Linked DNA regions of Homo sapiens: all the other regions are reported to be linked to region 2. Evidence: microRNA targets listed by miRTarBase, many of them from high-throughput screens and not tested one by one. Region 2 holds a microRNA gene; each other region holds the end of a gene's coding sequence. Distances are from middle to middle.
What was found. The annotated mature microRNA hsa-miR-218-5p reads UUGUGCUUGAUCUAACCAUGU and lies in region 2 at 2,001-2,021, shown strand. An mRNA with a match to its seed (bases 2 to 7 or 8) in the 3' UTR can be bound and repressed. Matches are read on the target gene's strand: a 7mer-m8 pairs with bases 2 to 8, a 7mer-A1 pairs with bases 2 to 7 and ends in A, and an 8mer does both.

Region 1: miRTarBase lists RCHY1 as a target of hsa-miR-218-5p. The part of its 3' UTR that is shown has no 7-base or 8-base seed match.
Region 3: miRTarBase lists HNRNPA3 as a target of hsa-miR-218-5p. Seed matches in the 3' UTR shown: 8mer at 1,705-1,712 and 7mer-m8 at 474-480.

Annotation. Positions count from the first base shown.
Region 1 is chr4:75,479,833-75,483,193 of GRCh38, forward strand. It overlaps RCHY1 (ring finger and CHY zinc finger domain containing 1), which reads right to left. Exons shown (of 9, transcript NM_015436.4): 9 at 1-2,834. The coding sequence ends at 2,706. Among named protein-coding and RNA genes, the nearest start is that of RCHY1, 33 kb to the right of the region's middle.
Region 2 is chr4:20,526,299-20,529,659 of GRCh38, forward strand. MIR218-1 (microRNA 218-1) reads left to right here and starts at 1,977; the gene lies at 1,977-2,086. SLIT2 (slit guidance ligand 2) reads left to right here. Exons shown (of 37, transcript NM_004787.4): 16 at 2,651-2,801.
Region 3 is chr2:177,219,146-177,222,145 of GRCh38, reverse strand. HNRNPA3 (heterogeneous nuclear ribonucleoprotein A3) reads right to left here. Exons shown (of 11, transcript NM_194247.4): 9 at 2,987-3,000; 10 at 2,832-2,899; 11 at 1-2,738. The coding sequence ends at 2,847. Among named protein-coding and RNA genes, the nearest start is that of HNRNPA3, 7.9 kb to the right of the region's middle.

The sequences.
Region 1 (3,361 bases), 55 Mb from region 2:
TTTAACATTCCTGTAAGCATTATAAAAAAGAATAGGAAAAGAATGAAGTTGTCTGTTAAAATGTTAACAGTAGTTCTCTCTGAAAGAAGGGATTGTTGAGAGTTTTTTACCTTCTTTCTTATAGAGGTATAACCTATACTTATGAAGTCAGAGAAAGAAAAAATATTTAAGGGTAAAGTTATGTATTTTAAGTTTTGCATACTGAATGGTAAGGGATGTAGATTTTATTCTTATTGTGAATGAGAAGTGTTGAAGGATTTTAATCATCGAGTTGACGTGTCATGAACAAATACTTGAAGCAACCCTGGGTACCGAAGCCTAGAGACTTTGAGTACATTTGAAAATTGCTTTAAGTGCATGACTAGACAGCATAAACGAGTGATTGCATATGTACTCTGCATTATTTTGGACATGTTTGGATCCTAAGTTAAAGAAACAATCAGATTGTGAAATAAGACTTTCTAACTAGAGTCACCTAAAAAAATGAAAGGTTAATCTATCAAATCATGAGCGCTTCAATGATATGGATGACTAGCTGTGAGGGGTATTTTAGCAAAATAGAAGTTTAGATCAAAAGCAATGTGGTAAAAGTGGGTTTGGAGTCAAACTTGGATCTGATTCCCAACTCCAACATATAGTGTCTGTTATTTACCCCCAATGTGTCATTTTAACCTCTAAACCTCAGCTTTCTTGTCTATGAGGACAACACTTACCCCACAGAATCATTGTAGTAATTAATGCTAATGCATGACCCAGCACAGATGTTGAAAACAGAAGAGCCTTATTATTATATACTCACTCCTATTTAAAGATCCAATGATTCAATGATTAAAAACAATAACATGATTGGTTTGGCAGAATAATACCAAACATAAAAAGTAATACATCTGGACCAAGCACAGTGGCTCATGCCTGTAATCCTAGCCCTTGGAAGGCCGAGGTAGGAGAAATGCTTGAGCCCAGGAGTTCAAGACCAGCCTGGACTTTGTTTCTACAAAACAATTAAAAATTAGCTGGGCATGGTGGCACACACCTGTAGTCCCAGCTACTCAGGAGGCTGAGGTGGAAGGATCAGTTCAGCCCAGGAAGTCAAGGCTGCAGTGAGCTACGATCACTTCACTACACTCTAGCCTAAATGACAGAGCAAAACCACTTCAAAAAAAAGTATTAGATCTGGAAAACTAGTCTTTACTTATCTGTATACTAATTGGTAATACCCAGGAACATCCTTTCCCAAATGAAGATCAGCACTGCTGCTCTGGCCAGGCCAAGGAAACAGATGAAGGGAAAGAACATAAGAAGAGTGGAATACAGAAGACAAGAAGGTGGGATAAAATAAAGATCTGAGTCCCAAACTGCTGCCTTTATCTAGGTGAATAAATTTCAACAAAAGAAGAAATAAATGTGCCAGAACTCTTAGGCTTTCTAGTTAAAAGGCTAACTTCCTTATTCAAAGAAGATTCAAATAGCTCAAAGTTGGAAATACAACTGGTGCTCAATAGGTACTTATCAACTGATAAATGTACATTTTACATCCTAGCCTAATGGTAAAGCTATTACGGAGATAACAGTGTCAAAGTCGGCTGGATCATCAAACATATTTGTTAACTTTGTTCCTGAAGTAAGAGGTATATTTAATTCCACTACATGAGCCCAAAAAAGTATTATGAAATCAGAGATCTTGCCAGGAATATCCCATGCCCTTCCCACTCATCCATCCCCTATTTTCACACGCTTAGGGAAGAAATATTCTATTCATTTACAATAAGACATCCACTCCTTGCATAAAGAAAAATGAGTACATTGATCAAATATGATGAACAATAGAATGTACTGCTGTGAGGACAAGGACTTTTATCTTTATTGTTCACTGTTGTCTCTACAGCATCTAGAAACATATCTGCCACATAGCAGTTGCTCAATAAATACTTGCTAAATGAAGGAATGAATGACTCTTTGAAGAAATAATTTTGGGCAACCTAAAAAAAACTGTTTTCAATGTTGATGTTTTTATTAAGGCTTTGGAAGAGTCTTATTATTTTACATAATAATTTTCCCAACTACTTTTATGGAATACCTCAAAAGAAAGAAAATTTCTTTTACATTATAGAACTGATGATACTGCCCTAATTGAGCCAAACATAGAAAACTTTGGAAAAAACTTTCTATAAAACAGTTTCAATATAATTTTATTAGCAGTTATTACATCAAAATTCACATTTAGAGGATCCAGAGGACTGTCTTAGAAAATTCTAAAGCATATTTAATTAGGTTTTAACAGTAAGGGAGAACTTAATATAACACAGCCCTTAAAAAGTCAAGACTACTACTGAAAATTAAGTGCAGTTCTATCAAGAACTAGAAATGAACTGCACGCGTAGTGTCACTTAAAGCAAAGCTTCATGAAAATATAATACACTTCTATGAATGTATCAGTGGCAAACATCATTGGCTTCCAAAAAACTGACACTAAAGGAATTTCCAATCAAAACACAAGCACAGTGGCTTTCATTCAATATAGAGCTATGATAAGTCTATCAAGAGACCCTGAATCCTTACGTACTTGTAATATGATTTTATGCTGTGACACTAGTACAAAACACATCAACTCTAATGCATAGATGACGACACATGATAACACGATACCAAGGAAAGCCTTTTTCTATATCAGAAAATGCCAAGTTCTCCAGTACTGTGTAGGCTCGTCATTGCTGATCCAGTGAAATTCTACGTCCTCCAGCTTGAGCAGTATTATAGGATTCACAAATCTTACATTTCATGCCTAATATATGAAACTGAACAGTGGATCGTCCATTACAGTCATTGCAGAGAATCTGAAAAGAGATTAATTCAAATTAAGTATTTTAAACCTTATAAATACAAGTAGCATTGTCTACTCATAATCCCTTGAAAATCATATTAAAGATGTGAAAATACATACATAAGTCTAAAAATTTCCAAAAGTAGAAATTTCTTCTTATTTTTTCACTGAAAACTCTAAAAAGCTATTAAGGTGGCTCTGAATTCAGAAAATGAAAAGGCAGATTTGAGCAAAAAAAAAGCTTATTTTAAAATAGTTTCCAAATATTAAATAGTATAAATAGTACAAGCAAGAAAATTAACCTAGGCATAATCAGATGAATACCTGATACTTATAATTCAAAATAACAACATGATTTCATTATTTTTCAGTCAGAAATGTATCTCAATTAATAAAACCAAAATTTTTACACAAATAATATTTTTGCTTATTTTTTAGGTTTAGTATACTGTTCCCTGTCTTCTCTGCCTTAGGAATGAATTAAATTCCAAAAAGAGTGTTCCTAAAATTGAGTAAACAGAGAGGCTCTTCGCTCATCCC
Region 2 (3,361 bases):
AATAGCATTGTATATTATTATACTGGCTGCATAACAAGTAACATGTTGAAAAGAACAGTTGATTGGCCTTCATTGACAATGTTTAATATTAATTACTTTACCCAATTAAGTGGAAAGTAATCTGATAGCTATTATTTAACCAGAAAAAGCCATATTCTAAACACCAGACTACCTATAGAATAAAACATTAATATGATTTAAATCCTAAAATTATGGCAGTAATGTAATTGGTATCAAATTATTCAAACTATTTCATTTAAATATACTTAATTAATAATTGGTAAGTTTAATATTTCCAATTCACTAAATAAAGAACAAAAGTCAGGTTGTTTTCATATATTCTGATATAGTTTTTCCCTGTTACTGACAGCAGCCAAAATAGGATTTGGAAATTATCTTTTATATCAAATATCATGTCTTAAGTTTCAATTTATGATAATTTAATTTACATTCTTTAAACATGATAATTGTAGAAGCCAGGACTCAAAAGGATCATTTGGGCTTCCTCCCCTTTTTTCCAAAAATTTTAATTAAAATTTGAGTCCACCTAACAAGCCACCATAAAATAAGCATTATTACTGTTCCGTTGAATGCAGATTATTTGAATTGCAAGATATCCAGTGTACCTGTCACTTAGACTTTGTGCACTCTTATTTCATTTTGGAGTGAAGCATAAATCATAAGACACCAGATCCTCAGTAAATATCATGGCATTAACTGCCAAATGTAATGAAACGATTATATTTACCATCGCAAACTTCTTATGAGATTCTGATTCCATTTCCACTAAGACACATTATTTATAAGTTGAAAAGTTCATTAAAAAGTGTACATCACAACATAAGGATTAATCCAAATGTTGTAATGATTGTCCTTGAGGATCTCCATGATTAGTTTTTCATTCACTTTTACGTGTGTACCTCGCTACTACCATTTTATATGGCACTCTACATATTACAGTGATAAAAGAAAATCTGTCTTGCAGAGAGTTCATCTTTTTTTTTTTGGAGATGGAGTCTCGCTGTCTCCCAGGCTGGAGTGCAGTGGCATGATCTCGGCTCACTGCAAGTTCCGCCTCCCGAGTTCATGCCATTCTCCTGCCTCAGCCTCACCGAGTAGCTGGGACTACAGGCGCCCGCAACCATGCCCAGCTAATTTTTTGTATTTTTACTGGAGATGGGTTTTCACCCGTCAGGTGAAATGGTCTTGACTTCCTGACCTTGTGATCCGCCCGCCTTGGCCTCCCGAAGTGCTAGTATTACAGGCGTGAGCCACCACACCCGGCCTTGAGAGTTCATCTTTTAAAGGAATCAAGAACTTAATTTGCACTATGCATCTTTTATTACATTGGTTTTCTTGTGAGACCACCGTGCTTCAAAATATTATTTATAAAATTTTACAAAGCATGACAATTCCCATCACATCATGCTATTTTTTCAATAATTCCCATAATAAAGAAAGAAGGAAGAGAGCTTAGTTTTATAAATATGTATATTAATCTTAATTGGGATTACTCTTTCTTTCCTTCTTGGTGATCTTTACTTTTGCAGGAATTCACCATTTTGGCTGTAAGTAAAAGTGTCTGATCTGAAACATAATACCCTCCCTTTTCAATCCTGATGTACCTTCTTCTAGTCTTGGTCTTTGGCACCTTTTTTTCAAGAAGAAACCACAGATCTTTTGAGCTTCTCTGTTGTCCTTGTAGCTCACCTTCAACTTCTTCCTGGATGTTGTTCCCGAAAGCTGTTGTTTCCATTCTGCAGTTCTGAGGAATGGTGGAGGCACCTTTTCCATATAGCCCCTTCTTTGTGTTTCCAGGAAATCATCGGTAGTAATACTCTTACTGTGGTCATAAACATTCTGCGGGAAGAATGCATGTCATGTAAACAGTATTACGTTTCCAGAACGTCTGTAGCTTTTCTCCTCCTTCCCTCCATTTTCCTCTTGGTCTTACCTTTGGCCTAGTGGTTGGTGTAGTGATAATGTAGCGAGATTTTCTGTTGTGCTTGATCTAACCATGTGGTTGCGAGGTATGAGTAAAACATGGTTCCGTCAAGCACCATGGAACGTCACGCAGCTTTCTACAGCATGACAAGCTGCTGAGGCTTAAATCAGGATTTTCCTGTCTCTTTCTACAAAATCAAAATGAAAAAAGAGGGCTTTTTAGGCATCTCCGAGATTATGTGAGAGGGAGAGAATAGTAAAAAGTCCATAGAAAATTTAAAAGCCTGAGTATATCTATTTGCCTTGAAAGCCCTAATTTACAATGAGATATAGGATCATGTTTATTACTGGATATATTTTCAATTCTTGACTCCGAGAAAAAAAATAAACTTTTTAATAATTAATATCCATTGTGTGACTAGCTGTGAAGTAGGCTAGAATGACTCAGAATTGGATCAGCAGAAAGTACAGCTGTGAAAAGCTCAACTTTATTAATGTTTTCCTGTCATGTGAATCTGGTCACTCTTTTTTCCAGAAAATTCCAAGCCTTTCTTTTAACCTTTCTCCTGACATCCATTGACCAAAATACCCCAAGTTGTCTCCCTGCTACATAATCTATAGTTATCTTACTTTTTTCTTCCTACAAACTAATAAATTTTCTAACCTTTAGACTCAGTATCTTTTTTTTGGTTTGAATTCTCAATAGGTACAGAAGATTATCGATCAAAATTAAGTGGAGACTGCTTTGCGGATCTGGCTTGCCCTGAAAAGTGTCGCTGTGAAGGAACCACAGTAGATTGCTCTAATCAAAAGCTCAACAAAATCCCGGAGCACATTCCCCAGTACACTGCAGAGTTGTAAGTTCATCCCCCAACAAAATTCTGGTTGGGATGGAGGGAATGAAAGCATTAAAGCATAAGAATGTTTGTCTTGCCATTTTTATTATTAATAATTGCATTAATTTTAATTAATATGCATTACATTGGCATAACTCTATTTTGTACAAGAATATATTAGAGGCTACCTTCATTCATCTTTCTAGCCAACCATACGATTAAGTACAGAAACTAATTTATCTCTCAAAATTCAGTAAGCACTTCATACTAATAACAATGGTATTTATTTGATGCTTATTTATTGGGTATTATTTATTCCCAATTTGTTTTCTAAGTACTTAGTTTTTAACGTATTTAATTCTTATAGCAACTAAATAAAGTAGTTTGAGAGCCTCCATTTTCAATCTCTGTAAACTATCAATAGATTCAAGGAGTCTGTCTTACCTAATTTACTACTTCATTGACTTACGGGCAGAAGGATTCAGTGGTTATCAAGTATTAAAGTAGAAAGGATAGCTTTTTCTGAACAATGCAAGAAAAGCTGAAAAGGCAGAATATGATGGTATTTACACTTAACAGCC
Region 3 (3,000 bases), not on the chromosome of region 2:
TACAAACCTTACCCAGCCAGAAACCTTCGTATTTTAGATGGTAGGAAAGACATTCCTCATTTAGGCAAGTAGGGTTCTCATTCAACCTGCAAATCAAAAAGATTACTCTTACCTTGCTTTACAAAAAATTACTCTTTAATTAGTGAAAAAATTCAAATTCAAGCCTTACCTAATGCTTATTGCCCTTCCTTGCAGGTCTAAATGCTAGACCTAGTGACTGTGGCAACTATCTCTCATTGATGTTCCAAAAGGCGAAGAGCTCCTTCCTGCTAGACTTTCTTCGATATTTCAGTTGTAATAAGCAGATTTAACTAGCTTTTGGAAAGTTGCTCACTATCATCATAGTATCTTATGCCTTCACTTCTCTGTAGTTGAAGCTCTTGCTGCTGCCTTGTCATTCTTTATTTATGCTGACTTGTCCAAACACAAAAGGCTGCTGAAGTCCTGTCTTAGTGAGTTTCTGTGATCCACACTGTGCTTAAAAAGCACATCTTAGGTCCTTTAAAGGTGGTTAAATCGCTCTCCTCATGGCTTACTTTTCCACACTGTTCACAAGAGCTAAGCTAATACAACTTATAAACAGGTCACATACACAGATTTCACCTGCTTATAGGTTGTAAACATCAACTTACTGTAAATGTTTTCACTATAATACTAGTTCCAGAACATAGAAAGTTGGTTAACAGTACAATTAACCTCATGCCATTAAAGGATACTGTCAAGGTTGTGTCAAACAATTTCACAAACATAAAACAGGAAATGTTAATCTCCCCCATTCCTTTAAACTTTATTTATATGAATAAAAGAACTTGAGACAATTTAGCTCAATTTTAATGTTTCCCAAGCATTATTTTGACCAGGTACCCAGGTTTAAGTTATGAACATTGACAGTGTCCATTATATAACCACACTTGAAGTTATTTAGGACTTAACCATTTTCTAATATTAGCCTATTTTCTACACTGCTTTTCACATATATGCCCATTAACAAATGGAATGTCTGTTACATTTATTGGTTTGTGAATGTTTCTGGAAAACTGCAGTATGTGTGAAGACCAATTTCCATGCTGGCATTGCATGCATCCAAATATTAATGCACAGAGGCACAGAATTAGAGCAACAAGAGAGCATATTCAAACACTAGCACACCCCATTCCCCTTTTTATTGCTTGTTTGCTTAGTACTTCTTAAAACAAAAGACTTGAATTCAACGTTCAACTACCAAAGAGAGTAACAGCAGGGCACATACTCAGGGCTCGAATGAAACTGTAAGCACTAGCTGGAGCAAAACAGTAGACATTGGTTTATATTAATATATGTATATATGACCTTATTAACTAAAACTCTTCTCAACCAGGGCCTTCCAAACAAATTGGTAACAACATGATTTATGTTGAAATATACACAAGAAATAACAGTGTGTTCTTTGGGAATTTAAGAACTCAGACTATCCAAATTTGAATTCAGGTCTGTAGGAAGTGAGAAGCCTGTACTAAGCAACTGTGCTACATTTCTGCTGCAGTTAGGTTATTTTGGACAATTATACCTGAACTATCCTTGGTTTCATCCAGCAAAATGTATAGAATACAAACAGGAAAGCATGCCAGCCAGTTAGGGGTTTAATAACACATGATTTTTATTCTCTTGCTCTGAAAACTTGTATCAAAAAAAAGAATTTAAAGTAACTCAAGATTTATGGGCCTCTTGTGCTTTAAATAAGAAAAAAAAGGTACCCACTAATTTGCTCAGATATAGCAGGCTTAATGGTTCTATATTTTCAAAAGTTTTTAAGAATGGTTTCTAACGTAGGAGAGGGAAAACATCCACCATCCCTTTTCAGAATTTAAATGGAGGGCAGTAAACATTCTTTACACCCAAAACCTATGGCAGCAGTTCAAATTTGACCAAGGTAAATGTAGAATAGAGATGTTCTAAACACAGCTAGGACTCAGCAAGTCTAACACACTAAAATCATATGATTACATTTTAAAAGAAAATGCACAAAAACCAAATAGAAATTTTGAGATTTTTTTTCATTTGAAGGTAATCTTAATGCTATTAAATTCACAAATGCTAATTTAAATACCCAATCCTATTTATCTAAAACACACATTGCAAACACACAAATTATCTATTCTCTCCACATGTCAGCGCCCATTCATATCATGGTTTGGAAATGGGGAGAATAGATTCCCCTTAAACTGCAAGTCAGCAGGTGTTTCTTTACAGTTAACTTTAGCAAAATTCATACAAAATAGTAATTAACAATGATCTTCTTTACTTGTTAACTCACAAGGAAACACCTTCGAAACTGCATTTTGTTAAAGTTTCTGTACTAAAATGTAGAAAAACTGAACTACACAAATATTGAAAAGTTAAAAATTCCTTAATTTTTTATTCCTGGTACCACTACCACAATTTACAGGGCAATATACCTGATGTAATGAAAAGAAAAAGAAAAAGACAAAGCTACAACAGATAAAAGACCTCAGGAATGTACATCTAATTGACACTACATTGCATTAATCAATAGCTGCACTTTTTGCAAACTGTGGCTATGACAGTCCTGAACAAGAAGGGTTTCCTGTTTAAGCTGCAGTAACTTTTCTGACTATGGATCATCGTTCCTTCTGTGGCAGATTTTTACAGTTCCTCTAATGCATTTGGGACGACTGTCTCAAAGTAACCTGCAGCTTTCCTGACAACTCCTCGCTCTCTCTCCTGCTAAGAACTGTAGCCTGTTGAATAATACAGGATAAAAAAATTATTACACTCAGTGAACAGTTCCACATATTCTTTTATCATCATAATAAAAATTTAAAGATACCTACCCTTTTCTGCTGTTTTTAGAACCTTCTGCTACCATATCCACCACTTCCACCACCAGATCCATAACCACCTGAAAATATACATAGTATTTTAAAAGAAGTATGCACATTTTTTAAATTAAAAAGGCTCTAAAGAATTGATTTAAGAAAGTACTTACCACCATAGGGACTG